Linked DNA regions of Homo sapiens. The protein of the gene in region 1 purifies or fractionates together with the protein of each later gene. This does not show direct contact. Each region holds a gene or a part of one and is shown on either strand. Other genes may lie near its edges. The genes, in order: MUC20, TRMT44, FASTKD3 and FAM118B.

The links.
Region 2: the proteins of MUC20 (region 1) and TRMT44 purify together in Homo sapiens (affinity purification with mass spectrometry; 2 studies listed by BioGRID and IntAct, with this or other methods). This does not show direct contact.
Region 3: the proteins of MUC20 (region 1) and FASTKD3 purify together in Homo sapiens (affinity purification with mass spectrometry; 2 studies listed by BioGRID and IntAct, with this or other methods). This does not show direct contact.
Region 4: the proteins of MUC20 (region 1) and FAM118B purify together in Homo sapiens (affinity purification with mass spectrometry; 2 studies listed by BioGRID and IntAct, with this or other methods). This does not show direct contact.

What each region holds. Positions count from the first base shown.
Region 1 is NC_000003.12:195,717,076-195,723,994, reverse strand, and holds the start of MUC20 (mucin-20 isoform a precursor), read right to left. Parts: upstream 3,018-6,919; 5' UTR 2,988-3,017; coding exon 2,912-2,987; intron 1-2,911. UniProt on the Homo sapiens protein: May regulate MET signaling cascade. Seems to decrease hepatocyte growth factor (HGF)-induced transient MAPK activation. Blocks GRB2 recruitment to MET thus suppressing the GRB2-RAS pathway. Inhibits HGF-induced proliferation of MMP1 and MMP9 expression.
Region 2 is NC_000004.12:8,436,856-8,443,776, reverse strand, and holds the start of TRMT44 (probable tRNA (uracil-O(2)-)-methyltransferase), read right to left. Parts: upstream 3,001-6,921; 5' UTR 2,955-3,000; coding exon 2,336-2,954; intron 1,017-2,335; exon of another isoform or gene 839-1,016; intron 1-838. UniProt on the Homo sapiens protein: Probable adenosyl-L-methionine (AdoMet)-dependent tRNA (uracil-O(2)-)-methyltransferase.
Region 3 is NC_000005.10:7,866,016-7,873,524, forward strand, and holds the start of FASTKD3 (FAST kinase domain-containing protein 3, mitochondrial), read right to left. Parts: upstream 3,017-7,509; 5' UTR 2,964-3,016; intron 2,185-2,963; exon of another isoform or gene 2,182-2,184; 5' UTR 2,069-2,181; coding exon 631-2,068; intron 1-630. Other genes in the region: MTRR (methionine synthase reductase), read left to right, coding at 4,780-4,908, 7,358-7,509. UniProt on the Homo sapiens protein: Required for normal mitochondrial respiration. Increases steady-state levels and half-lives of a subset of mature mitochondrial mRNAs MT-ND2, MT-ND3, MT-CYTB, MT-CO2, and MT-ATP8/6.
Region 4 is NC_000011.10:126,249,772-126,256,804, reverse strand, and holds part of FAM118B (protein FAM118B), read right to left. Parts: intron 6,300-7,033; coding exon 6,072-6,299; intron 2,547-6,071; coding exon of another isoform or gene 2,501-2,546; coding exon 2,372-2,500; intron 1,655-2,371; exon of another isoform or gene 239-1,654; coding exon 1-238. UniProt on the Homo sapiens protein: May play a role in Cajal bodies formation.

The DNA.
Region 1 (6,919 bases):
GGGAGACCCTGAGGCAACACCTAGCTTTTCAGAGAGCGGCTGCCAGCACTTCTGCCCAGAGCAGAGGCCTGTTCCCTTGACTGGCCCTGAGGTGGGAGGAATGGGAGTCCCCGAGGGAGGCTACGGTAGGATATCTTCCCTAGAGACAGGGTCTTGCTCTGTTGCCCAGGCAGGTCTTGAATTCCTGGGCTCAAGCGATCCTCCTGCCTCAGCCTCTTGAGTAGTTTACTACAAGATCTTTTCTGGCCTGAGAAAGGGGGCCTCCCCTGTCTAGAGGGAGATCGGGCTCTCCCTGTGAGTGGGCCAAGGAGCCTCTTGGAGAGGGTTTCTAGATTTAGCAAATAAAAATACAGGGTACTCGGTTAAATTTGAACTTGCATTTCAGATAAACGACGAATAACTTTTTAGCATGAGTATTTCTCATGCAATATTGGCTACATACTTACACTTAAAAAAAATTGTTACCTGAAATTCAAATGTAACTGGATGCCCTGTGTTTTATCTGGTAATCCCAGTCTTGGAAGGAAAAGGATCAAATACGAACCCCCTAATTCTCTGAGCCTTCTTGGTCCAGCCTACACAGCTGGAAGCCCAAAGGTGGCGCTCTTGGAGTCTGACCTCCCCTGGCACAGGGTTTGAGATGGTCTTTACCCAGCTCCACTGGCCCAAAAGTAGCCCATAGACCCAAAAGGGGCCTAGCACCTCTCCCCAGGGCATCAGGATGGGGCCCCAGGTCCCCAACTGGTTGTCCTGTGGACCTCAGGGAATGACGACGCAGGAGTCAAGAGCCTCGGTTGCAGCTCCCGCTGTGCCGCCCACGACTGGCTCCGGGGTCAGATGATCTGCTGGTTCAAATCCTGACTCAGCCTCCTACTAGCCAGGCCAGTCTCTAGACCCCTCCCAGCCTCCATGTCCTCACCTGAGAAAACAGGGTCACAATACCTGCCTTGCCAACGTGATGAGGACCAGCGGAGAAGGTGAAAGGGCTTATATTCCAAAGCCCACAAGGTAAGCATCCCTCCCTATGGAGTCCTCTCCCAGGCCACTGGAAAGCACGCATAGTTGATCTGACTATAGTGAGGAGTGCGGGCTGCACCCCCAGGCAGTATAGGCGAGTCCCGGGCACCCACTCTCATCCCTGGTCCAGTGCGGCCCAGCTGCACACACAAATCTCACTTTTGCAGGAACTGTTCGTCTGCCTTCATAATACAGTTTCTTCTCCCCACTTCAAGCCTGAGATCATTTCTTTGAGCCTTCTTGGTCCAGCCCACACAGCTGGAAGCCCAGAGTGGTGCCCTTGGAGCCCGACTTCCCCTGGCACATTTTCTGGCTTATCCAGGAGCCCCGGGGTGTCCTTTCTGCTGTGAAACCTCCTCATGCTCCCCAAGCCCACAGCCTCTCGGGTCCAAGGGGGTCTTCTCGAATACAGCAAATCCCAGCCCAGCCCCTCAGTAGCTCTGGAACACTGCGGCTCTCCTGGTACAATCTTCAAATCTGGTGGAGAGGAAAGCGTGTGGACTTGGGACCCTGAGTTGGAGAATCTGCTCTCTGCCCTGTGACCCTGGCCAAGTCTCTCAGCTCCAAGCCTGCATTTCCGCACCTGTAAGGTGGAGCTAACGGGACACGTGCAGCGCAGACCAGGCCACGGTGAGCACAGGCAGGAGGCCACGGGGTGCAGTGCTCAGGCCTGTGAGGAGTCAGATTCTGGCTCCGAGGAGTTGTTACTGGATGCCCAGAAGCACAGTGGCCTCACCCTTAAAGCAGTGGAGGTGGGGGGTGGTAAAAACAGGGCCGATCTTGCAGGGCCGTTGTGAGGATTAAAAATACAATGTATGATAATGATGCATCAAAGTAGGTTCCTCAGTCCTATCAAATGTGCCACTCTGGTGGGGGACGCTGATGATGGGGGAGGCTGTGAGTGGTGGGGATGGGAACTCCAGACTCTCCACTGCAGCTTTTTTTTTTTTGAAACATAGTTTCACTTTTGTTGCCCAGGCCAGAGCGCAAGGGTGCGATCTCAGCTCACTGCAAACTCCACCTCCCAGGTTCAAGCAATTCTCCTGCCTCAGCCTCCCGAGTAGCTGGGATTACAGGCACCTGCTACCACCCCCGGCTAATTTTGTATTTTTAGTAGAGACGGGGTTTCTCCATGTTGGTCAGGCTGGTCTCGAACTCCTGACCTCAGGTGATCCACCCACCTCAGCCTCCCAAAATGCTGGGATTACAGGTGTGAGCCACCACGCCCGGCCTCTCCACTCGAGGTTTAGAGGGAGCATAGAACTAAAAAAAAAATAAATCCTTTTCTATTTTTTAATGTATGTGATGAGTTTGGCACAACTCCTATTAGCGACAGGTCAGGGTTCATTCCCGTCTTTCACAAAAGCCCTGCCTGTCAGCATCCACCCTTCCCAAGCAGTTTGTGGCAGTTGGACTTTTCACACGAAATCTGTATTTTGAAGGAAATCCATGCTAGGTAATAAACTGGGAGGAGTCAGAATCTTGTTAAGCCACATTCTTCAGCTTTCTGCACAATGATCACCAGCTGGCACCTCCCTGCACCCCCGCTCCGTGCCCCACTTACTGTCCCACGTTCATAAAGACAAACTCTCAGCCATCCCTTACGATGGCAGCGTCATGGTTGATTAGCGTGTACTGCAGCGCCAGGCACGCTTACACTCACACACATCGTCATGGTTGATTAGTGTGTACTGCAGCGCCATGCACGCTTACACTCACACTGTCATTTGCACACTCTTTATCAACAATAATAGCACTTCACAAGTAGCACTGTGGTTCATTATAATCAACCCGAGAGAGCCTGCCCTTGCCCATGAAGGGTGGCTCATACTGAAATTCACTCCCAGAGCCCTACTAGGGGAGAGGCCCACCAGGCCCTTCTAGGCCTCCTTACCTGCAGAGCTCCCAGAGACCCCAACCTCCCAGCAGAAGAAGAAAAGGGGCAGAGCCAGACCCCAGAGACAGCCCATCCTAGCCGGCCACCGCTGCTCCACAGAACTGCTGGCTGTCTCTCGCGGGTACCTTTTCCTGCTTCCTCAAACCAGGGAGGAGGGGCAGCCTCCTGCCCAGGTGTGTGACCAGGTGATCACAAATGTGCAGGCTGAGGGCTGGCAGGTTGAGGCTGTCAGCAAGCTGACCCCCCTGCCTTCCTTGCCCGGTAAACACTCCACTGAAATTTGATTTGAAGATATGGAATCACTAGCTTCTTTTTTTTTTTTTGAGATGGAGTCTTGCTCTGTCACCCAGGCTGGAGTGTACAGTAATGAGATCTCAGCTCAATGAAACCTCTTCCTCCCGGGATCCAACAATTCTCCTGCCTCAGCCTCTGGAGTAGCTGGGATTATAGGCGCGCACCACCACGTCGGGCTAATTTTTGTATTTTTAGTAGAGATGGGGTTTCACCATGTTGGCCAGGCTAGTCTCAAACTCCTGACCTCAGGTGATCTACCTACCTCAGCCTCCCAAAGTGCTGGGAGTACAGGCATGAGCCACTGCACCCAGCCAAGTGCTTTTATTTTCTTAAGCCAATTAATTAGAGCTCTTTTATATATTTTCAGTAGCAAAACACTGTGTACACAACAACACATAAATACACAGATGTATTAGGTATGCTGAAAGAAGTTCATCTTATAGATTCATAAAGAGCTTTTTTCTTACACCTTCAAATTCTTTTTTACTTTTTTTTTTTTTTTTTTTGAGACAGAGTCTCACTCTGTTGCCCAGGCTGGAGTGCAATGGCTTGATCTCGACTCACTGCAAACTCTGCCTCCTGGCTTCAAGTGATTCTCCTGCCTCAGCTTCCTGAGTAGCTGGGATTATAGGCACCTGCCACCACATCTGGCTAATTTTTTTTGTATTTTTAGTAGAGACGGGGTTTCAACATGTTGGCCAAGATGGTTTTGAACTCCTGACCTCAAGAGATCTTTGCGGCTCAGCCTCCCAAATGCTAGGATTACAGACGTGAGCCACCGTGCCCAGCCACACCTTCGAATTCTTGATAACCTGTTTTACTACTCTAAGCGGTTGTCAGCTAAATAGCCTTGAATTTGCATTTTAAGGAAACTGAGGTGAAAATCGAATAGCAAAATTTACATCATAACGTATGGAGAGAAAAAGTCTGGTGTGCTGGAGGGAAATTAAAACAGATTTAATTGCCAATTAAACATAAAATTATAGAAATTATAAAGGCCTTTTAAATATATACACACACACAAAGATCCTATAGCTTTTACTTCAGAAATTTAGCCATGAAAGCTGGGCGCGGTGACTCACGCCTGTAATCCCAGCACCTTGGGAGGCCGAGGCGGGCAGATCACCTGAGGTCAGGAGTTGGAGACCAGCCTGACGAACATGGAGAAACCCCATCTCTACTAAAAATACAAAAAATTAGCCAGGCATGGTGGTGCATGCCTGTAATCCCAGCTACTCGGGAGGCTGAGGCAAGAGAATCACTTGAACCAGGGAAGAGGAGACTGTGGTGACCCAAGATCACGCCATTGCACTCCAGCCTGGGCAACAAGAGTGAAACTCTGCCTCAAAAAAAAAAAAAGAAAAAAAAAAAAGAGAAAGAAAAGAAAAAAAGAAATTTAGCCATGAAATAAATACAAATTCACCAGTTTACAAACAGAAAAACTATCTGATCCAAACAGTGTTTTTTATCTTAATAGAAAAATAACAGCAAATTTAAAGCAGGCAGAGAAGAAACTAGAGAAAAAAGAGGACTCAGGAACTCTACAGTTTGCAGGTCAACCTCAGGGCTCCTTTTTTTTTAATGTAAATGTGCAGAAAGACCATATTACTTCCACTTTACATAAACTCTGGCAAGTAGAGGCGCCATGAACCCTATGGAGTACTCGGCTGGGAGGAGCAAACGCCCTTTCTCTTTGGAGCTGAGAAAACTCAATCTCTCATTTACCTATGACAACAACAGTTCAGTTCCTCATGCAAATACATAGACAACCCAAACTGAGATTCATTTTGGGAGAAAAAGCAATAGAGAAGACCCTTTAGGATGCATCTCTGAACTAGAATTAGGATCCTTAAATCACAGCTTCCTAGAAGAGAAAAAAAAAAAAACAAAAAAACAGCCAAGACCATTCCCTGTAAACTGTGCTCAGCCACCCCTTCTTTGTAGTTCTCGTCTGCCATTACACACGCCAAGGTCAAATCCTCTCACAGTGCAGGGTCATCTCTGGTTCCCCCAAAGCCAAAGAGGTCAGGTCATGCCGTACAGGAAGACAGCAGAGCTTTAGACCTAAGAAGAATCCGCCCATCACTCTTGAAACTCCACAAAGAAAACAGAGCACCCTGGAAGGGGTGAGTGGCCCCTTTGTTCCGGATCCTTTAAAGGGGCTCGAGTCATTGGAAGCCTTCTCTAGATTTTTTTGGTCCCGCAGATGGCAAAGGCAGGAGGAGGTATAGGGAGGAAGAAAAGTAAGTGAAAGAGCATTTGTTGTTTTTGTTTGTTTGTTTTTTAAGACAGAAAGCAAACACAGAAACCAAGCACGTGATTTGTTGTTTTCGTTTAGTTTTTTCCTCTTTTGCAGCTGCAAGGAATTTTAGCCAAATTAGAGAGGCTTTGTTACCCATAATTTGGAATTCTCACTTGGATTTGACCAAGTCAGGTAGAGTTGGTCAAATCTGATGAGAGAAAGACCAGAAAAAACAACAACAACAAAAGTCAAATGATATGACCACAGACTGCTCTAATGGGAAGAAGAAATTCAGACCAGCTGGTTGTTAACCTTCAGCCAAGACAAAACCTCAGTTCAGCTACTTACCTAGGGATGGGTCTCAGGCTGAAGACTGCTCTCTACCATCCTTGAAGCAGGAAAAAAACTCGAACTTGTCTTCCCTGCTGGGAGCAAGCTCAAACTCCATAAAAGAGTTGTCAGCCTTCCATCATCACGGACCCAGGAAATCTTGCCTTCCTTCTTGGAAGCAAATAAAACTCCAAAAGAAGGAGAGGGGGAGTTGTACATCAAATAAACTTTAGATCACGACCAAGTTTTGAGAGATCAGGGACTCTATGGAGGGGGTGCTCCCAGACCTCAGCAAATTGTCCTGTTGGTTTGAGCCATAAGGTTAGCTCATGGTGCTACCAAGCACCAATAGATCTGTCAAAGGTCAGGGGTACCTCAACTCAGAATCCCTCCATGGTTACCAAAATGTGAACCCCCCAAATCTGAGACAGGTCTCAGTTAATTTAGAAAGTTTATTGTTCCAAGGTTGAAGATGCACACCCGTGACACAGCCTCAGGATGTCCTGACGACATGTGCCAAGGTGGTCATACGTTTTAGGGAGACATGAGACATCAATCAACACATGTAAGATGAACATTGGTTCAGTCTGGAAAAGGCCGGGCAACGCCAAGCAAATGTGGGACAACTCGCAGCCAGGAGAAAGCTTCCAGGTCACAGGTGGGTGAGAGACAAAGGTCGCATTCTTTTGAGTTTCTGATGGGCCTTTCCAAAGAAGGCAATCAGATATGCATCTATCTCAGTGAGCAGGGGGTGATTTTGAATAGAATGGGGGGCAGGTCGGCCCTAAGCCATTCCCGGCTTGACTTTCCCCTTTAGCTTAGTGATTTTGGGGGCCCAAGATTTATTTTCCTTTCACAAAACAATAAACATAACAAATAAGTGAATTATAGAAAGGTGAAAACTATGGAAAAAAAAGAAAAACAGAGAGAAAGAATCCTGAACACTGACGTGGGGAGGGCAGGTGCCAGCTGCAGTACTAAATACTGGTGTGGGGAGGGCAGGTGCCAGCTGCAGTACTAAATACTGGTGTGGGGAGGGCAGGTGCCAGCTGCAGTACTAAATACTGCTGTGTGGAGGGCAGGTGCCAGCTGCAGTACTAAATAGCAGAGGGGAGGGCAGGTGCCAGCTGCAGTACCAA
Region 2 (6,921 bases), on another chromosome or scaffold:
ATGTTGGCCAGGCTGGTCTCGAACAGTCACATTACTCTTAAGACCTTCGTGATCTTACCCAGAATAGGGCCAAGAAATATACAAAAGTTGCAAGAGCATCTCCACTTCACACAAACAGCAGCTAGCATTTATTAGGCACTTACCATGTGCCAGGAACTATTCTAAGCACTTTACAATGTATTAATTCCATTTAACTCTTCCAGCAACTCCAAGATATTTTATTATTATCCTATTTTACAAATGAAGACACTGAGGCACAGAGAGGCTCTATAACCTGCCCACAGCCATACAGCTTGTAATTGGCAAGACCAAAATTCAAAGCCAGGCTGTCTATATTCCATGGAGGATACAAGTCCTCTGGTGAGCCTTCCTGGCGGGAACTGAATATAGAAAGCAATCCTGAAAACGTACTCCTTGTTGAGAGGGAAAACTGCCTCCCTGAGAGGAAGAAAGGAAAAAATTCTGTCCTACCCCTCTGTTCAGCGAAGTCTACACATGAAGGCCTCACGGGCACTGCCTCTCCAATCCTCAGTCCAGTGGATGGACAACGTAAAATGGTTAAGATTAGAACACAGTTGATAAGAGCTGGAAGAACTCCTAAACTAGACTGGACTGGCAGAGAGGCCCCCTGGAGGAGAGGACACCTAGAGTCTTACAAAGGCACAGAGGCAGACAGTATTGGGAGCCATCAGAGGGGACTATGTACCTCCCAGCAATTGCTGCCTGAGGTAGGCAGAAGAGCCTCCCAAAAGTGTCCATGCCGTAATACCCAGGACTCGTGAATATACTGTATTATATGGCAAAAGGGGCACTTGCAAACATGATTATGGTTACAGACCTCAAGAGGAAGAGTACTCTGGATTATCCAGGTGAGCCCGGCCTAACTCCATGGGCCACGAAGAGCAGAGAATTTTCTCTGGCTGGAGGCGGAGGAGAGAAGCAGCAGGAGAGGAAGGCAGAGAGATTCCAAGTATGAGAAGAATTCAACCCCATTGCTGGCTCTGAGATGTAGGAAGCTGCATGAAAGAACCAGAAAGAAGCCTCCAGCAACTGACAGCCAGCAAGGGAACAAGGACCCCAGTCCTACATAAAAAATTGGATTCTACCAACGAACTGAATGAGCCTGAGAACAGATTCCTTCCCAGAACCTCCAAATAAGAGCCCAGCCGGCAGGCTGTTTGATTTTGGCCTCGTGAGAGAGACCCACAGCGGAGAAACCAGCAGAGCCAATGGGGATTCCTAACCTACAGAACTGAGACAATCAATTTTTTGTACTGACCAATGAATTTGCAGTAATTTGTTACAGTGGCAATACGAAACACATGCTGCTGAATAAAGTTTCAGGTAAGAGTGGCTGAGGCTGAAGTGTCAAGGTCACGGGCAGTAAAAATAAATGCCAGAGATTTAACGAACGCTGAGGACTAGTAGGTTCCCATCCATCCAGTCTCTATGCTCTTTCACAGTTATTTGTCTCAGCATAAATAGCTCTCTTTATGTTGGGGAAAAGGCTTATGGCATGCCTGTATAAACTGGCCATAAAAATATGAGACAATAAGTTGTGGAAAGCCACAAGAGGCCTCTGAGGAGGAAAGCCTTCTTATTGTCATGATGTTCCCATGCTCTGGGCGAGACCTACTGTCTTACCTATAAACACTGTGTTCAAGGAGAAAGACACTCCTTTGAATCACTACAATGTGGTCAGACATGCAGGCTCCTAGTTAAGCACGCTCCCACTGGTTATTCTCCGACAAGTTAAAGATAACGCTGTTTGAGCACAAAGGAGATTCATTTAAACCGCCACTGCTATAGATGACATGTATGATGCACTGTCTCCCTTTCACCCTTTCGCCCCGAACGTCCGCTTCTTAGATCTAAGTGATTGTACTCAATAGTGTGGAGACCAGAGCTCCCAGGCTTTGGCAGCCTCCATTTTGCAATTGGCCCCCTGGCCCCCAATCTTTATGCACTCTTAACCTGTCTCGTCTCATTCCTTCGTCGCCACCGGACTTTGAGTACCCTACGGGTGGTGTTGAGGCTGGTCCCCAACACTTTTACACCTACAGCTTTACCTGCTAAACTCCTAGGTATTACGCAATATCCAGCTAGTCCTTCACTGTCTCTTTGAAGCCTTCCAGACACCACCCCAATCAATTATCCCATCTTCTGTACTAAGGACACACATTTCTATGCGCCCACTCAAAAAACTATGAAACACCTAACAACCTCCCTAGGACATCGCAGAGGAACTAGTACCCTTAGGACTTTTTCATTGACCCGAGGTTCTATGAATGCTTTTTTATCTAATCATATCCGTCCACTATCAAAACACTCTTACCTTGCACGACTATTTCCCTCCTGGGAGTTGTAAGGGGGCAATGTGGGCTAGTTTTCGGGATGACGGTTCTGAGAACCACGTCGAGCTCACGCTGCGCCTCTGGCTGCGATCCCGCCCCGGAGCTGGTGAGGAAGGCCAGCAACTCCGAATTGCCACGGGCGAGACTTTGGGAGAAATCCTCCCAAAGCGAATCCAGATCTGCGGCGGGGAAGTCGCCCTCCCTTCCTTCAGCATGGCCGGGGTGCCCGGAGTCCCTCAGGGGCACTGAGGCGGCTTCCCTCTGTGCCTCCTCTTGCTGGCACTGGCCCTGGGCCTCCTCAAGTTCGCAACATGCCGTGCCCTGCTCGGGTCCTGATAGCGACCTGGGACCCGGGCCCCCTCCGGGGGAACCCTGGCCGGGTCCCGGACCCCGCTCCTTCTGCTCCGAGCCTGCGCTAGTCCCGGGGCCGCGGGCCTCCGCGCAGGGCAGGGCGGCGCTCCAGCGGGCCTCCAGGCGGGCGCCGCAAAGCCGTTTGTTTGCCACCTGCGGCCTCTCCAGCCACACTTCGACCGCAGCCCAGAAGCCCTGTGGGAGAAGCGCGCCTGGGTAGCTGATCCCGGTACGGCCCACCTCAGCCATGGCAGCCAGCAGGTGTACAGCCCTGGCAGCGGCGCGCCGAGATGACGCAGCCCGGTGGCGCGGCGCGTTGACGTCATGGAGGCGGGGTGCTGGGACCGGAAATGAGAATGGCGCCGCTGGAGATCCTTTCCTGCTTTTGGTTTCCCTGGCAGGGGTTGAACTGTGGAGTGTGTGGGTGAGGAATTTGACCTGTGTTTTATTCCCTTTTGAGAGAATTCTGGGCGTGGTATAGTTACAGAATCAAACATCAGCCAGCCAGCGGGTGTGGAACGCATTGTCCTCAGTACTGATTACCGATAAAAGTCAGGGAGCCTAAGTTTGTGAACGTAAAAGATGAGTCCTCTTATGAAAGCTAACTTTTCTCCACTTGGGTTCTGGTTTGCTTTTAGTGCTGGCATTACAGCCAGTGCCTTCCTAAGTCTGAGTGCAGCCATGGCTGTTTCATAAGAATGATGTAACGTTGTCCCATGAGGGATGAAAGTCATCTGTCACCTACTGTAGCAGGACAAGCCACAGACAAAACTCCTCAGACACCGGATTAAAGAAGAAAGAGGTTTATTCGGCCGGGAGCATCGGCAGACTTGCGTCTTAAGAGCTGAGCTCCCCAAAAAAGAAATTCTTGGCCTGTTTAAAGGCTTACGACTTTAAGGGTCCACGTGAAAGGGTCGTGATAAATTGAGCAAGCATGGGAAACGTGACTGGGGGCTACATGAATCAGCTAACAGAACAGAAAGTTTTGCAATGCTTTTTTCATACAATGTCTGGAATTTACAGATAACACAAGTAGTTTAGGTCGGGGGTTGATGTTATTATTATTATTTTTTTTAACTCCTAGGGCCACGTGGTGGTGCCAAGGTTGTCTGGCTATTTATCTGACTTTTGTTTCTTTCTAACTTTTTGCTTTCTCTCTTTTCCTCCTGTCTTATGAACTAGGCAAGGTGGCAGGGAGGAGGGCAGCAGGAGTAGTAGTGGTCTCCTTATCCCTTCCTTTGAGAATTTTCACAAATTAGTGGGAGTTCTCGCTTTTATTTTTACTTTGAGTCTCTTTGGGAGACAGAGTGATAGTGTTTTATGTAATACACTTGCAGTGAGGGTTTTAAATTCTCTTATAGCTGGAAACTATCTTTTAAATAAAGACCTAGGATCAAACCTGTGTTAAACCAGTACAGGCACATGTGCCAACTTTGTCATGTCCTAAGCAGGTTAGTTTTTTTACTGGGTCTTAAAAGCTTTTTTCCTAGCAAGCAACACAGTATTTCTTAATAATAGGAGTTTTTAAGAGCCAAATGCTTGAACTTGGCATCTGCTTGGGGAAAGAGTTAAAGTAATCTTGAGGCATTAAATCTTTTGCTTCTCAAGGCCATTGGTCTCTCATGTTAGCCTTTTTATAAACATAACATGAAGAAACGTCTAGGCTGCTGGCAATGTTTTCAGCCAGCTGAGCAAATAGGTTGTTTGTTTGTTTTGCTAAAGGAGGAGGCTCTTGTAACTTCTGGTTTATGTGTTTAAAGAATGACTTAAAGACTCGGAATTGTTGCTGGGCTGGACGGGTCTGGGTTTCCTGACTAAGTAGTATGTGTACAATGGGGACACCTTATATAGGTGTTTCTTCTAGCATGGTTATGGGGGGTAACAATAACAAAACAATATACAGCATATTTGTATCCAGCAAGGACAAAAGAGGTCCTTACCTGGGAAAAAGATTGAATACAGTGACAGAACAATAGGAAAACAGTATTACAGGAAAACTATTAGTCTTAAGATTTTTAACTACGTTTACTTGCTTGACAAGTCCTCAAGCTTCGGCCATGCGTAGACTATTCAGCTGCCAGTGCGTGACTAGAGCCGGGCTTGTTGTTTCTTCAAGCTTCAGCCGTGTGTAGACTGGTCAGCCTCCGGAGTGACCAGAGCAGGGCTGTCGTCCTCAGCAACAGCTTGGTCTCGTCTCCGAATCAGCCGGGTAGGAAGATCTGTGTCCTGCTGGCTGGTCTACTTGTCCTGAGCTGCCAGTGTTAGCTGACTGTGATGGATCTAAGACACAACACCTGCAACTTTTAACAGCAGTGGGAGTGGAAAAGATTACAGTATAAGGCCCATCCTATATGGGTCCTAGAAAAATTAGATTTTACTTTTTAACTTAAACAGAGTCACTAGATTTAAAGGGGTGTCAGGCTTATAGGCATTTTTATGTATTTAATTATAAACACTTTGTATGGCTATTTCTAAAATCTGCATTTGCTTTCTTAAGGTTAATTCCTTTAGTTCTTGGAGGTCACCTTTAATTTGACCTGTGATTTGGGGGTGGCCGACCGAACAAAATCTTATAGGGTAAATACCTAGTTTGTTTGGTGAGGGTGCAGCTGACTTGAAGGAGGACCATAGGCAAAAGCCTGATTTTATCTTAAATGAATTTCCTGGCAATATTTTTTTCAGTAGCTGCTCGAGTGTCCAGTTCATGCACTCCACTTTTTCTTGAACTTTGCAGCCAATAGGCTGTGTGTAACTTCCATTTTATTTTTAACAGTCTTGTTAAATCCTGCCCTATTTCAGCTACAAATGCTGGCCTATTGTCTGACTTTAAAGTTAGAGGCAGTCTAAACCTGGGGATAATGTCTTTTAACAATACTTTAGTCACTTCTTGTACTTTTTCTGTCCTGGTGGGGAAAACTTTAACTTACCCTGGAAAGGTGCAAACAAGCACTAGCATGTACCGATAGCCTCCAGCATGAGGCAGTTCTGTAAAGTCTATAAGCAAGTTTTCACAAGGTATGGCTCTTTTTCCTGTTTAAGTTTCTTAGAGGAGGGGTTCTTTTTCTTTCCCCCCTTTGTAACTCTATCTAGTGGCTTAGCCATCAGTGAGAAATTGGAATCCAGATATGGCAGAATCCTGCTGCTTTTAACTTCTAATGTGACAATGGGCTCCTGGGAGCCTAATAAGAAGGTGCCTAGTCTGCCCTAGTCTTTACATTCTTTAGCTCCTGCCAGCCTGATCAGATCAGTATTTGGTTCCTCCAAGGTGCGGCAGCCCTTGGCCAATGGCCTCTTTGTCTTGCAGCCTTGGCCATTTCTTTTATTGCCTTCTGAACATTCACCCTTCTAGTGTCCTTTCTTTTTTCATCTCACACATTAATGTCTCTCTAGCCTTGGCCGGCTCTCGAATCCTTGCCTAACTTGACTTCTTCCACGTCTACATCCGTGTCCACGTCCTCTCGCATTGCTAATCTCTCTTTTTATAAGAGCTGTTGCTAACAGATTGGCCTTTTTCCTTAAGTCTTTGTTTTTCTTTTTCCTTCCTGAGTTCTCCTGCTTCTATGGCCACCTGGCGGGGCCAGGCAGTGGCACAGGCCCTGCCCCCGCGCACTGCTGTCTCTCCCATTTTCTTCTGATTCTCTTTTTTACACTTACTGTGAGTCTTTCTTTTTGTTTTGCTCTTCTCTTGGCACCGGTCTCTAGCCTCCTCTTTTTTTCTAGATAGAGCTGAGCCGGGGAGAGGAATTTAACCCTTGGCGTGCCTAGCTGCCGCACTTGTTGCTTTTGCTCTTTCCTGTTTTGTTCCTTGGTCACAGCTAACATACGCCTTGGTGGCCACTTTTATAGACTGGGTGATATTCATGCCTGTAGCTTCTGCTTGATGTTACCCTGGGCTTGCTTTACAAACGAAGTATTCACTATATATATATTTATATATATATTTACATATATTTTTTTACATATATATGTAAATATATATATTTACGTGTATATATTTCTATATATTTACATATATTTGTATATATATATTTATATATATTTTTTCGAATATATATATATGCTGATTTTTTTTTTTTTTTTGAGATGGAGTCTCGCTCTGTTGCCAAGGCTGGAGTGCAGTGGTGTGATCTCGGCTCACTGCAAACTCCACCTCCCAGGTTCACACAATTCTCCTGCCTCAGCCTCCCGAGTAGCTGGGACTACAGCTACCCGCCAC
Region 3 (7,509 bases), on another chromosome or scaffold:
TCTGAATTGAGGTATGTATGAGAGAACATCATGAACATTCAACATCAATTTACACACTCCAGACAGAAGTATTCTATTTTTAAATGACACTATGAAATGAACTTGTTAGAATTAATTATGCCCTCCTCTTGCCACCAATGAAATTGACTTCCAAGAACCCAAGCTCCTAGCTACAGAATACAATTAAAAGAGATAAAATATGTTCACAGAATTAGTGGAAATTTCCTTTAACTATGGAGTTCCGGAAATTTGACATATTTGGGTGGCCTTGAATTAAGATGAATAATACCATCCTCTCAAAAAAAAAAAAAAAGATACAGTTGCTCACTCATCAAAAGTTCTAACATGTTAATGTGGCTATTTCCACTGCCATTACCATATCTCCTAAGAATGCTGCAATTTCTCAGATAAGGCAAAAGTCAGTTTATCTGAGACAGCTTTCTTCCCTCTACATGATTTCCTAGCATGCTTTAACTGTGTTTATGCCAGCATCTGTTAACTTCAGGTCTCATCTTCGGATCACTATGGAAGAAAAACTAAAGGCAACATATTGCCTTTATATGTGACTTGAAACCACTGCCAGTTCAAAGGTTACTTTTTTCCAACTGTCAGAATTTATAACCAACTCACCTTGCAGCCGTTGAAGGAAAAGAGGCTTGAATATTTTTGCCAGAAAGTTGACTGGATGGCATTCATTAAGTGAACATGAATGAAGAAGTTTCAATAATGATTTGGGTGGAAAATAATTGAAATGAGTGAATAGCACGTTTTCCAGCTTTCTAAATAAAGCAGAGGCATTTGGTGGCAAATAATTGAGTTTCCCAAATGGTTCCATTAAGGCAGAAATCTGACGAGGTGAAAATTTTTCTGTTTGGCAAACAAAAGTTTCTGCCACTGCATTGAGGATGGGTTTTGAAAGAATCAGTTCTCTACTGCAGTACTCCATGACCCTGCAGACAACTTCAGGATCCAACGTGAGGCACACCGCAGCTACACGATGCTCTAGGGCTTTTGTAAAAAATGTGTCATGGTGCCCAAAATATATGAACGCCTCCAAGACTCTCCTAAGCTCCTCGTTAGTGAAATGTGGGACATGCCTCACGACATATTTGCCCAATTTTATAATCAGAGGAAATGCTTGACTTTGATCAAGAACCACCAGGGCAGTGAGCATTTGGCTAATCAATTTAGGACTCAGGTTGGAAACTATTGATAGGGAAAAGTTGTTTATCTTATTTAAAAATGTTTGGTGTTCATCCACTTTTTCAGTACATGCCTGCAAGATTCTATAAAGGGCCACAATATCCTCCGGGGTAAATGTTTCCAATTTTTCACCTTGAAGTTGATTTATAATGAGTTCTAGTGTCACACAACCTGAACTGTGCAGTGTAATCAGACTTTCCCCAAGAATACAAAGATTGCGAACTTCCATGCCACCTTTTCTGAGACGATTTTGGCATTCTGCCACCAGGTTCAGCAACAGGCTACTTTGAGGATCCACATGCAACAGAATCAGAGCTTGCAAAGCAGTCACTAAACTAGTGTTTGACAGCTGTGAGGGCTCCTTTTCAAACTGAAAGCATAAAGCTTGAAAGATGCTATTCTCCAGTATTTCTTTTGGCAGCCCTTGATCACCATCCTTTTTTTCCACTTCACAAATTCGTTGTAAAGCTCCTGCTGCCATAGTGTCAGGCAGGGTTTCCATCGTGCTTATAAAACTTAGCACTTCTTCTGATGAAGTCAAGTTGCTCAGTCTCCTGTAAAACATCTGACTCTCCTCATTTTTAACATTTTGTTCAAGCCTGTCGCAGTCAGATACTTGAGAGAACACTGGTCCACCGAGTGGATGAAGGTCATTTCCATTTTTCGAATGAAACTTTTTACAATGGGCATGATGGAATTTGACCCCGAAAGGCTCAGGTTGTCGTGAACACAACCAAGGGCACAGACGCTCCTTGACTACCTTGTGAACATGATTTAGAGGTTTATTTTTTAAAGCAGCCAGAGCTCTATGCATCTGAAAATCAGATAAACGATAAAGGTTCTTCCTCAAGGTGATTAATGCCATACCATCAGATTCTCAATTTGATAACTAAATTAAAAAATTTAAAAACACATGGTTAAATACATTGAGAACATGATTGACCCAACATCAATGTTTATGAAACTACAAACGAGTATCTGGAAAAAAAAAAAAAAAAAAAAAAAGGATGGTTAACATATAAACACCAGAGGGGCAAAGTCTCTGCATCCTAGAGTTAGAAGAGTGGCTGACATTGAACAATAACAATCGCTATTACTTGCTAAACACTGTTGTAGGTATTCTATTAACTTACACAGATTCAGTACTTTTACTATCATTTTACACGAGGAAGAAGTTGAAGCACAAAGTTACTTTGCCCAGTTTATGCAGGTGGTTAAGTGGCAGAGCTAGGGTTCAAACTCAGGCAATGTAGCTCTTAAGGGTGGCCCTTAAATGTTGGTTGAAGGAAGAAATTGCATTTGGATAGAAATCAAAGAACAGGTAAAGTGGGCAAAATTAGGCGAGGTTAGAGCAAGGCAAGGGTAAAAACGCGCTGGAAAGGCCCTAAGCTGTTGGTTTCCCCTCGGTGTCGGGAGAAGGTTAGTGTTGAAGGAAAGGGTCTACTTTGTCAATGGAAACAAGGTAGGAAAAGAAAAAGCAAAACATAGATCAATGAAGGGAGAAGGTGGGGCGGCCAGTCCAGATCTAAAGACGGTGCGGGGGGATTTGGCAACACGTGTGTGCAAGACAGACAGACGGGAGGCCCCGCGGCGCGTTTTCCTAGGAATGAAAGGGACCCGCGGGGCGAGCACCCCCAAACTCGGCGCCCCGGGGACCTGCGCTGAGACACGGGCCGGGCGGCGCAGCCTGAGGAGAAAGCCGGCCAGGTCTTTGACACCCAGCCGGACCAACTGCGCGGAGACCCCGCGTTGACACCTACCGCGCTCTGCCGGGCAATCACTCCGGGTGGTCGCGGAAGCGCCTGGGCGTCGTGGGCCTCCGTAGCAAACGCGGGGCGGGAGCACGACTCAGGGCGGCGCAATGTGATTGGCCCAGGTCCCCTTCGGAGCTTTCTATTGGTCCTGGGTACCGAGCATGGGCGCTGCGTCAGTGCGCGCTGGCGCAAGGTTGGTGGAAGTCGCGTTGTGCAGGTTCGTGCCCGGCTGGCGCGGCGTGGGTAAGCTGCCTGTCGGCTACGGTTCCCGGATTCCGGCCGCTCGCCCTGCACTAATCTCCTGGGAGAGGCGGCCCGGGGCGGGGGTGGGCAGCCGGCTTGCGCCCGTGGTTCCCACGCCCTTCGGCCTCCGGGGGTCGCCGCGGGCGCGGGCTGGGGCTCGGACTTGGCCTTTGGCCTTTGGCTTTGGTGTCCCCGGGAGCGTGTCCTTGGGCTCGGCGTCGGCCTCTGCCGCGGGAGGCCCCTGGGCGGCGTGGGGTCTCTCCTCATGTTCTGCCTTTGGTTCTAGGCGCTTTCCAGGCCTAGGGAAACCGCACTCGGGGACGCGGGGAACTGGGGAACATGCCGGGTTGGGGCGGCGCGCTCCGGGGAACCCGGGACGTTCCGAGCGCCCACCCGGCGGGACGCGGCCGTGAGTTCTGCCCGCGGCCGTGAGCTCTGCCCACCGCCTCCGCGCCGCTTCCGGGGCTGCTGGGGCCCGGGCCTCCGCTGAGAGTCGTGGGAAGGTGGTGCCGGATTGTGGGGCAGTAGCAGGGATGAGGGGTTGATTGATCCTGGGAAGCCCTCAGGATGTGTGTTTCATGGGAAGTGATAGAAATTTTAGCTGTAGTAAGGTTTTCATTATCGTTTCCACCGTTTTCTGTGAGCTGTCAATGTGTAGTGTTTTCATATTGTTTATTCACTCATTCAGATAACTTATCGAGTACCAGTTTCATGCCAGGTGCCGTTCTGGGCGGTTCATTCACCGAAAGCCAAGCTTTTGGTTTGGGTTTCAGTTTAAATCTGTCTCTGCAAATTGACAGCCCACCAATTTTAGCCGTTAGATGAGTATGGAAAAAAATCTGTGAGTGTCGTTTGTTTTACTACTGCTTATCTCTTGCGGAAAAACGTGTTAGTAAAATGTTTAAGTGGATTGGAAATATTTTTTCGTTATATGCACCCGTTTGTATATATGCCCATACACTCACATATTTTTGATTTGCATTAAATAATGAAGGAGAGTATGTGCTTCAGTTACCTTTAGTACTATGATTAGTTTGTTTAGCGTTAGGATCAAATAAGAACCAAGAATCCTATCATTTTAATATAGTTTTTACTTTTATCTTTTTTTAAAAAGAGGAAACCAAAAGCTATTTAAGACTGTTGTGAATGATACTGTGGCTCAAGTTTTGTTCAGGTTCTTGGCTTGTGCCACATCGTTTTTCAGGTAGGTGGTAATACTCTCATTTTTAGGATAAAGGAGCTGTGGTACGGATCATTTGGGGAGCTTGTCTACAGGGTTGCACTTAGGAAACACAGATTCAAGCCCAAGTAGTTTCGAGCCGATCATCTGATTTCTGAGCCATGGAATTAGAGTTTCATTCGTACACTCTCCTTAATTTGATGAATTCTTATTTAGGCTCATTTGAGATTAGTGCTGAAAACAAATTTAGAAAAGGCCATTTCATATTATGTGTGGGTATTGTTGCATTGTTTCTTAAAGATTGAGGGAGAATTAATATCTTTAGGTTGTTACTGCTTCATTAAAAAGAGGATCTTTTTTCCCCCATTTTTCAGTTTCACTGTTACATGCCTTGAAGTGATGAGGAGGTTTCTGTTACTATATGCTACACAGCAGGGACAGGCAAAGGCCATCGCAGAAGAAATATGTGAGCAAGCTGTGGTACATGGATTTTCTGCAGATCTTCACTGTATTAGTGAATCCGATAAGGTTAGAGCCGTTACAGTGGATTTTACCGTTTTGTGCTTTGAAGAATTTTGGTTGGGAAGTGATATTTATGAAACAAAAGGACACTAATACCACCACATAGTCTTTGTTTTTTAACAGAAATGTGTTTGTTCAATGGTATAGTAAGATATCACCAGCATTTTTTTAATATAGAAGTGTGTAGTTGAATTAGACTAAATGGTCTCAAAAATTGAAACAAGTAACAACTCCTTAACTGTAAATGACAGAAGTAGCATATGCTGTGTCTGTTTCACAGGGTGGCTGTGAGAACAAGTGAGATGTGTGTTTGCCTGCTCAGGTGTGCTTTCCACCTCTTGAATCTCAGTGTCCCACTTTTTTCCCCAAAAGAAAGGCCTTGCCGTGCGTGTTAGAGTTCCTCCTGATGAAGGACCGCCTAGATTCTTTTGTGAAATAGAATTTAAAGTAGTAGTGTAAGGATCTGGAAAAAACTCGGCTGCTTCTTCAGGGACTAGTTGTTTATGTTCAGTCTCTGCAGAAGTTCCTACCTTAGGGTATATGCAACTTTACCATCTTGTGTTCTTTTATTTAGTTTGCTGCCTCCAGATTATACTATTTCAGACAATTCAGGCGATAACAGTTGGCAGGGGCTTTATACCACAAGATGATTTGCCAGCCGCTAAGCAGTTAAAATTCACTTCAACATTTCAGAGACTGTCCTGCCAGTGCTCTCTCACCCAAGTGCACAACCCTCTCTGGCCTTTCCTAAAACTCCAGTTCAGAACACTAGACTGTGTGCAGCTCAAGTGAATTATAAACCCAGCTCACGGAAGGAGACTCACCTAGTTCCTTTATGCAGCCCTGCCACGGTAACTCTGGACACCAGAGAAAAGGGAGCTTCCTGGAGGAGACTGCCAGTCAGCAGACTCTGTCATTCTACAGTAACTTAAGTTCAGATTGCAGTGCCACATGATGAAGTATCTGAATCTGTTACTTTGGACAAAACCAAAGCCATCAGTATCATAAAACTAGTCCTGATTTGGCCCCTTGTGGTTGACCTCAGTAAGTTGATCAGCAGGTGTTTTGGCAGTCAGATGAATGGTGAATTTTTTTTTTTAACACCAAGATAGTCATGCTATTTATCCTCCCTGGCTGATGGTTTCGTCTAGCTGTTCATAATCTAATATCCTTCCTATTTCACATAGTCCTTTTCAAGGTACTGACATTACTTATACAAACTCTGTATGTAGAGTTTAACACACAACTTACATAGAGTCTTGGAAGCATTAAATACTTCGGTAAAAAGTTAAGTTGTTACCTCTTTTATCAGTGTGAAAAATAAGGTGAATTATTTGGAGCCAAATTCGATGGTGTTCATGGGCAGTAAAGCTTGTGGAGTCTTACAAGTAAGACAAGGAAGTGTTCTATTTGAAATACTTAAATTTACACGAGAGTAAGAATAAAGAAACTTGATTTGTAAGAGTTTATAGCTCAGCTTATAGCTAATGATATTCTCAGAGTTAAGACAGTGAAATGCTCTATATGAAATATTTAAACTTACATGAGAATAAGAATAAACTTGATTTGTAAGAGTTTGTAGCTCGCTTATAGCTAATGATATTCTCAGCTCTCTGGAAACCTGAGGGAATGAGCGGTTCTTGATAGCCAGGTCCCTGATTTAGAAGGGGTAACACTTTTAATTTCCCAGTTTTAAAATGCCCTGTTATCCCTCTGCCTTAGTGTCACATGCAGTACACATGGCTGGTTTTATATTTTGCTGAAGATTTCAGAGCTGTTGTGTTTTTATTGCTGTTTTTCTTTACCACAGTATTCTACTTGTTGCTTCCTTGTCTTGGCATTCTAATCCTGAGTGCTTATGTATCAGTTCTCTTTATTTCTGAGTCTCCCCATCCCCATTTTAACACCTCTTTCCTTGCTTTTTTTTACTTTCTTATGAAAAGACGTTTCCACCCAGTTAGCTGCTGTTCCTCCTTGGCAGCTCATCACAGTGCCTAGGTGCCTCATCTTGGCTCTTAGCAGTGCTGATTTGCCTTGCAGATTTGAGCTCATGTTAATGTTTGGCCCATGACTCAGTGGCAAAGAGTTGACTATATCCTATTTCCTCTGATTTTTCTAAAAATGAAAGACTGGGACTAGATGGAAACCTGGGATGGGTACTGTCTGTGCCTGTCCCTGCCTTTCGTACACAACATGAAGAGAAAGACGTGTTAATCCCCCCCAACCTCTTGATGAGCATCAACAAAACAGACGCATGGTTTCCTTGAATGACATCCTGCATTAGGCAAATTGATTAAGCTGAGAGCGCCTAGTCACTGGACTGGTCGTCTCAAAAAAACTGGCAAGGAAGAAGATTGAAATACAAGACAGGAAACTAAGCTGATTGCTTTGCTGCTGAGTTAAATCAAAAATGCATGTAGTGTTAGGTCCCTGACTTGATATCCTTGTTTTGTAGTATGACCTAAAAACCGAAACAGCTCCTCTTGTTGTTGTGGTTTCTACCACGGGCACCGGAGACCCACCCGACACAGCCCGCAAGTTTGTTAAGGAAATACAGAACCAAACACTGCCGGTTGATTTCTTTGCTCACCTGCGGTATGGGTTACT
Region 4 (7,033 bases), on another chromosome or scaffold:
CTGGAAGATCGGCATAGTCATCTCCATAGGAGATGACTTTAATCCCCTTGTCCAGCATGTTTTCTCGAAGCTTTTTGAACTCATCTACGTCTCCTCTCCGAACCAGCATGAAATGTTCTAGGTCAGATTTATGCTTGACAGCCTCCAAGAAAAGGGCCTGGAAAGTGGTGTCATCCACAGTCCAGCCACAGCCCAGGAAAAGAAATGACTTGTTTTCGTAGAGTTTCTGAATTTCTCTCTGGAAGGAAAAGATACAACATATTGACATTGTGAAGACACACTCAAGGCAAGTCTGAAACAAGAAGGTCATGCTACGTTGAGCAGACTGTGATGACCAATTAAGCAAGACTTAAGTGGGTTGGTATGTCCCATCAAGGAGTGTGATCTCTTGCTTATTGCTGTAACTTGATGATTGGTCTAAAATTTTATCTTTACCTGCCATTCTTCTGTAGGCTCTCTAATCAGCGTTTCATAGAGCTGGTGTCAGTGTACTGGTGCAGTAGTTTACTTCTTTATTTTTTATGCTTTATATATTTTTTGAGACGGAGTCTCACTCTTTCACCTGGGCTAGAGTGTAGTGGTGTGACCTCGGCTTACTGCAACCTCCACCACCCTGGTTCAAGTGACTCTCATGCCTCAGCCTCCCGAGTATATTACAAGTGTGCACCACCACACCCAGCTAATTTTTGAATGTTTAGTAGAGACGGGGTTTTGCCATGTTGGCCAGGCTGGTCTGGTACTCCCGACCTCGAGTGATCCACCCACCTTGGCCTCCCAAAGTGCTGGGATTACAGGCGTGAGCCACTGCACTTGGCCAGTAGTTTACTTTTTTATTTTTATTTTATTTTTGAGACAGAGTCTTGCTCTGCCACCTAGGCTGGAGTGCAGTGGCATGGTCTTGGCTCACTGCAACCTCCTCTGCCTCCCAGGTTCAAGCGATTCTCCTGCCTCAGACTCCCAAGTAGCTGGCATTACAGGCACCTGCCAGCACGCCCAGCTAATTTTCCTATTTTTAGTAGAGACAGGGTTTCACCATGTTGGCCAGGCTGGTCTGGAACTCCTGACCTCATGTGATCTGCCTGCCTCAGCCTCCCAAAGTGTTGGGATTACAGGCGTACTTTTTTAGATTTATGTGCCCAGAGGTCATTGTGCAAAGAGTAGGTCTTCATATATCTTAATCCTTCCATTTCTGGACCATATTTGCCTTTGTCTCACAAACTGAACTGTGAATCACCAGAGAAGATAATTCCATCATCGGATTTGCTCAAGGAAAGGCGTTTGATACTTAGAACATCAGTATGTGTGTGTGTGTGTATACATATACACACACAAAAACACAGAAATGACTGCCTAAGGGATCACTCAATGTCAGAGATGGATGCAGTTATGGCAGATGTTGGGAAAGAATGGGTAAAAAGAAAAAAAAGTCCCTTGTGCTTTAGACAATACATTTTCTCGGTCTTTTGCCTCATTATTAAAAGATGCTATAATCTATATGACCCAGTCCTGAAAACAGCAAACAAGATTCTTAGAGCTGGGGGCAGCGAATACTTCTGGTTTGAACATGTTTATCTGAACAAGTCGAAAATGTGCATCCCAAAAGATCAATAAGCTTTTCACAAAGAGTAAGTGTGAATAAATGTGGTTAATTCAATATAAGCCCATTGCCATTTATACAAAGTCTCTTTAGAATGTATTCTCTAGTAGTGGTTGGTTTGTTAAGAAGCTGCCTCAATTATTTCTGACACAGAGAGGGCTATTAATAAACCAAATGATGATAAAGGGTACTAATGTATCCTTTGTATGTGAAGATGATGCCAATGATGACATGCCATCTGCTGGTTGTCAATTAAGTACAAACAAAGATCATAGGGTTTGACACCTTAAGAGAAATTCTACATTTCCTAGACAGCATGCACACCCATAAGTTAAGAAGCACAGGAAGAACGTCTGACTTTCCAGTTTCTTTCTTTTTTTAGAGATAGGGCCTTGCTCTGTCACCCAAGCTGGAGTGCAGTGGCTCTAGACACAGCTCACTACAGCCTTATATTCCTAGTCTCAACTAATCTTCCTGCCTCAGCCTCCCAAGTAGCTGGGACAGCATGCACCATGATGCCTAGCTAATTTTATTTTTGTAAAGACAAGAGTCTCGCTATGTTGCCCAGGCTGGTCTCGAACTCCTGGCCTCAGGTGATCCTCTCCCCTTGGCCTCCCAAAGTGTTGGGATTATAGGCATGAGCCACTGCTCCTAGCCCCTGACCTTCCGTTTTCACTTAATGAAAAGAAGATGTTCCCCTTTAAGATCTATGGCATATTTAGAGAGATTTCCCAGGAAGGAGTTCCTGAGACCAGCAAGATCAGCCCCACTCACCATGACTTCAGTGTTCCTGAGCACGTTCTGATATCCAGCCGGATGAAGGACAATGCCACTAGGGTTGGTGTAGACTCCGTGAATATGCAACACGCTCAGCTTACGCTTCTCCTGAGCCCACTCGAGGACCTGCACAACACACATATAGCCCAACCAGCTTGGCAGGGCTGAGCACCTGTTTAAAGGTCACAATGGGCAAGAGGCTGTTTTGAGGACTAGACTTCTGACATAAACTCTCTAGCTTCATGATATAGGACAAGAATGCAAAACCTGATGTGGTCTAAGTTTCCACTTCAGGAATGACTGTCAAGAATGATGGCAACAAATTTGGTGATTTCTCTTTGAAAGTAAGCATCAAAAATCACAATTTGTCATAATTTGCAGAAACAACAGGGACCCTTTGCACTGGTGGCATGCATGAGAGCTATGGACAACTGCTTCAGTGATCGCCCCAAGAAATCAAGCCTCTGTATCCAGGCCCTTGTGTGGCCCCTCTTCGGAGTGACTCCAGGCTAACCACATGGCTTGCTTTTAGCCAATGGGATACTAGCAAACACACACAAGCAGAAGCTTGAAAAGTGTTGGCACAAGAAGTCTTACTTCTCTTGTGTTACTTTTGGAATCCAGCTGCCATGCGAAGAAAGTGAAGAAGCCTGGGCTAGCCTGCTGGGACATATATGGCCTGGCCAATTGCTTGCAGGGAAGTATGGTCCCCTTATATCACTCAGCCCTGGTGCGGCCATCAGATGTCTGCAGGTATGTGAAGAGGGTGCAAAAATCAGCAGAAAAAATGCCTGGCTGAGTCACTGAGCCCAGTTCAAATTGTTAATATACTTTATCATGGGCAGATAAGATATTTGTTGTTACAAGCCACAAAGTTTCACGGCCATTACTTGTACAGCAATAGATAAGTGATAGAAAAATCACTTCAGTCACCTCTGAGGAACCTAAAAGGCTGCCAGCGAAGAACAATCATTTAGACAACAGCGAATGCAATAGCCACCTGATTCCATGGCTCCATTTTCCCAAGGACTGGAGACAGCATACATTTATTCTTATCACATTTTGGAGAAATAGGCTATGAATCAGGAAAGTAGTCAAGAGGCACCGAGATTTAGAATTTGAATGTTACTAGGCCCCATTCTGACTACCAGTCAATGTCTTTAACCATTAGACTGCAACACTGCCCCTAATGTGGGCTGAAAATACAATGCAAATCTTGAGGCCCAAGGATGAAATGAGAAGGAAAACATCAAATGTGATAGATATCCTCAGCTTTTAAAAGGTCCTTATGCTTCTGATATCCATGAACACACTTGGTCATAATCTTTGGAAATTTTATCACAAATAGCATAGAAGCTGCTAGTTTTAAAATTTCAATCATTTGTTTGTTTGTTTTTAGACAGAGTCTTGGTCTGTTGCCCAGATTGGAGCACAGTGGCGCAATCTTGGCTCACTGAAACCTCTGCCTCCTGGGTTCAAATGATTCTCCTGCCTCAGCCTCCCAAGTAACTGGGATTACAGGCGTGCACCACCACTCCCAGCTAGTTTTTGTATTCTTAGTAAAGACGGGGTTTCACCATGTTGGACAGGCTGGTCTCAAAATCCTGACCTCAAGTGATCCACCCACCTCGGCCACCCAAAATGCTGGGATTACAGACGTGAACCACTGTGCCCAGCCTATTTATTTAGAGACATGATCTTATGCTGTCACCCAGGCTGGAGTGCAACAGTGTGATCACAACTCACTGTAGCCTCGACTGCCTCAGCTCAATCGATCGTCCTGCTTCAGCCTCCCAAGTAGCTGGGACCACAGGCAAACACCACCATGCCCGGCTAATTTTTAAACTTTTTGTAGAGATGGGGTCTTGCTATGATGCCCAGGTTGGTCTTGAACTAGGCTCAAGTGATCCTCCCGCCTCAGCTTCCCAAAGTGCTGGGGTTACAGGCCTGAGCTGCTGTGCCCAGCCCAATCATTTATTAATCAAAAAAATATTTACCAAGCACCTAACTGTCATATTTGAGACATGAGGGTTGTATTTGAGTTATGAGGGTAAGAAAGACTAACATGATACCTATCCAAGTGAAGTTACTATTCCTATGGGGTAAACAGTCAGAAAACAGATAAACAGCCAAGATAAAAACTGTGCTGGGTGTGGTGGCTCATGCCTGTAATCCCAGCACTTTGGGAGGCTAAGGTGGGCAGATCACCTGAGGTCAGGAGTTCGAGACCAGCCTGGCCAACATGGTGAAACCCTGTCTCTACTGAAAATACAAAAATTAGCCAGACGTGATGGCGGGTGCCTGTAATCCCAGCTATTCGGGACGCTGAGGCAGGAGAATCGCTTGAACCCAGGAGGAGGAGGTTGCAGTGAGCTGAGATCATGCCATTGCACTTCAGCCTGGGCGACAAGAGCAAAACTCCATCTCAAAACAAAACAAAACAAAACAAAACAAAACGGCCAGGCACATGCCTGTAATCCCAGTACTTTGGGAGGCTGAGGTTAGCAGATCACCTGAGGTCAGGAGTTTGAGACTAGCCTGACCAACATGGAGAAACCCCGTCTCTACCAAAAATACAAAATTAGCCGGGCGTTGTGGCACATGCCTGTAATCCCAGCTACTCAGGAGGGTGAGGCAGGAGAATCACTTGAACCCAGGGCAACAAGAGCGAAACTGTCTCTCAAAAAAAAAAAAAAAAAGCTGCAAGTTAATACTAAGTGCTACAAAGGAAACGGACAAGAGACTGGATAAAAAAAATAAGTATCCAATTTAAATAGGATGGTCAGAGAAGGTCTCTCAGGAGGGGATCCCTAGGTTGAGAGTTATAAATGAAGAAGGAGCTGACCATACAGAATATGAGGGCGTAGGCGGAAGACACTTGGACCAGAGAAAACTAGTCTTCATGGGGCAGCTTTTCTCTAAATTCAATTCCCTTTAAATCCTGCCATCAAGGTCAGCAAAACCACAAGAGTGGTATTTCAGCTACCACTCTGGCAGGGGCAATACTGTAGTACTGAATGCCAGCAGGCAAATCACTTGTCTATTCAACTCTACTTAGTTGGGCTCTAAATTGGACATAAAGGCAGATTCCTGAGGAAAACAAAGTGTAGGAAAAAACATTACAAAAATCACAGAGTAGGACCAATGAGACTTTAAGAACTCATCTCATTAGCTGACACAGATCAACATCTATAATTCAATAATTATGGTAGGTACAGTATAGACTATGCTAAAACAAAGTCTGCTGAGGTTTCCACTAAACATTAACCTCAATTCAGCCATCGCTTGGCCTGGAAGTTGTTCTTCCAATCAGTATAAAGTAGTTTTCATACATTTCCAATAGATGCCATAAAAAAAGGTATCCTAAAATAGAACCAGCATTATCAATATTACACCACTGAATACTGTCAAGTGCTAAAGAGATCTTACAGTTCAAGTGACTTCCTCTAATCTTGCTTTAAAACTGGATGAAATTGTCAAGAGTCATAGAACTGAACACTTTTAAGTTCTATGCATTTTACTGTATATTGATTTGATCTTTAAAAAGAAAGAAAAAAGAAAAACAAAAACTCCAACCAGGGAAAAAATTTTTCCTTTCTAGCTCTACATAAATACCAATATACCAACTAGAAAAGAGCTTTTCTGAGGAAGATAAAATCCACTAGCCTGAAGAAGGGACCAATGCTTTACTTTTTACCTTTTTCTCATCAGTAAGGTCAAGGGATTCAAGCTGTTTCCCCTGATCTGCTGCATACAGTTCCAAGAGATTATCAAAATTTGTAGTTAATACGAGGGCTCCATTTTCCATCAGGTGGAGAACTGACTGAAGTAGCTGTTTTCCAGAATCTTCCATCTTTGACTCCAAGTCATCAAATACTTCATATAAACAGTCCTTGAAAAATGTGGATCGAACATTACTGGTACGCTGAGGAGGGATTTGAAAAAAGAAAATTAGTCCAAAGTGCTTTGGTAGGTCAGTTGTTTTAGTTACAGCAGTAACAAATTTTGGAAGAATATTTTGAATTCAAAACAGAGATAAAGGCCAGGCGCAGTGGCTCACGCCTGTAATCCCAGCACTTTGGGAGACCGAGGCGGGCGGATCACGAGGTCAGGAGATCGAGACCATCCTGGCTAACACGGTGAAACCCCGTCTCTACTAAAAATAAAAAAAATTAGCAGGGCGTGGTGACAGGCGCCTGTAGTCCCAGCTACTTGGGAGGCTGAGGCAGGAGAATGGTGTGAACCCAGGAGGCGGAGCTTGCAGTGAGCCGAGATCGCGTCACTGCACTCCAGCCTGGGCGACGGAGCGAGACTCCATCTCAAAAAAAAAAAAAAAAATCCCGGGGATAAAATATTATCTATCTCATACGAACGTAATAAGGAAGATGAGATGATACATGCCAAGTGCTTAGCACAATGCTTAGCAGATAGCAAGTGCTACTATACGTAAGCTTCCTAAAATAGGCATTTTTATAGAATGAAGAAAATAAACCTGGCCAAGGGATATGAATTTACTGTCGGTATTAAAGGGAAGCTGGGGTACAAAGCAGAGCGACAACTACCCTCTCATGAGGTGCCAGGTAAGAAGGCAACACTTTCCGTTCATCTTGCCTTATGTAGGGAAACGCCACTGAGACACAGCCCTAATTGTGGTTTGGC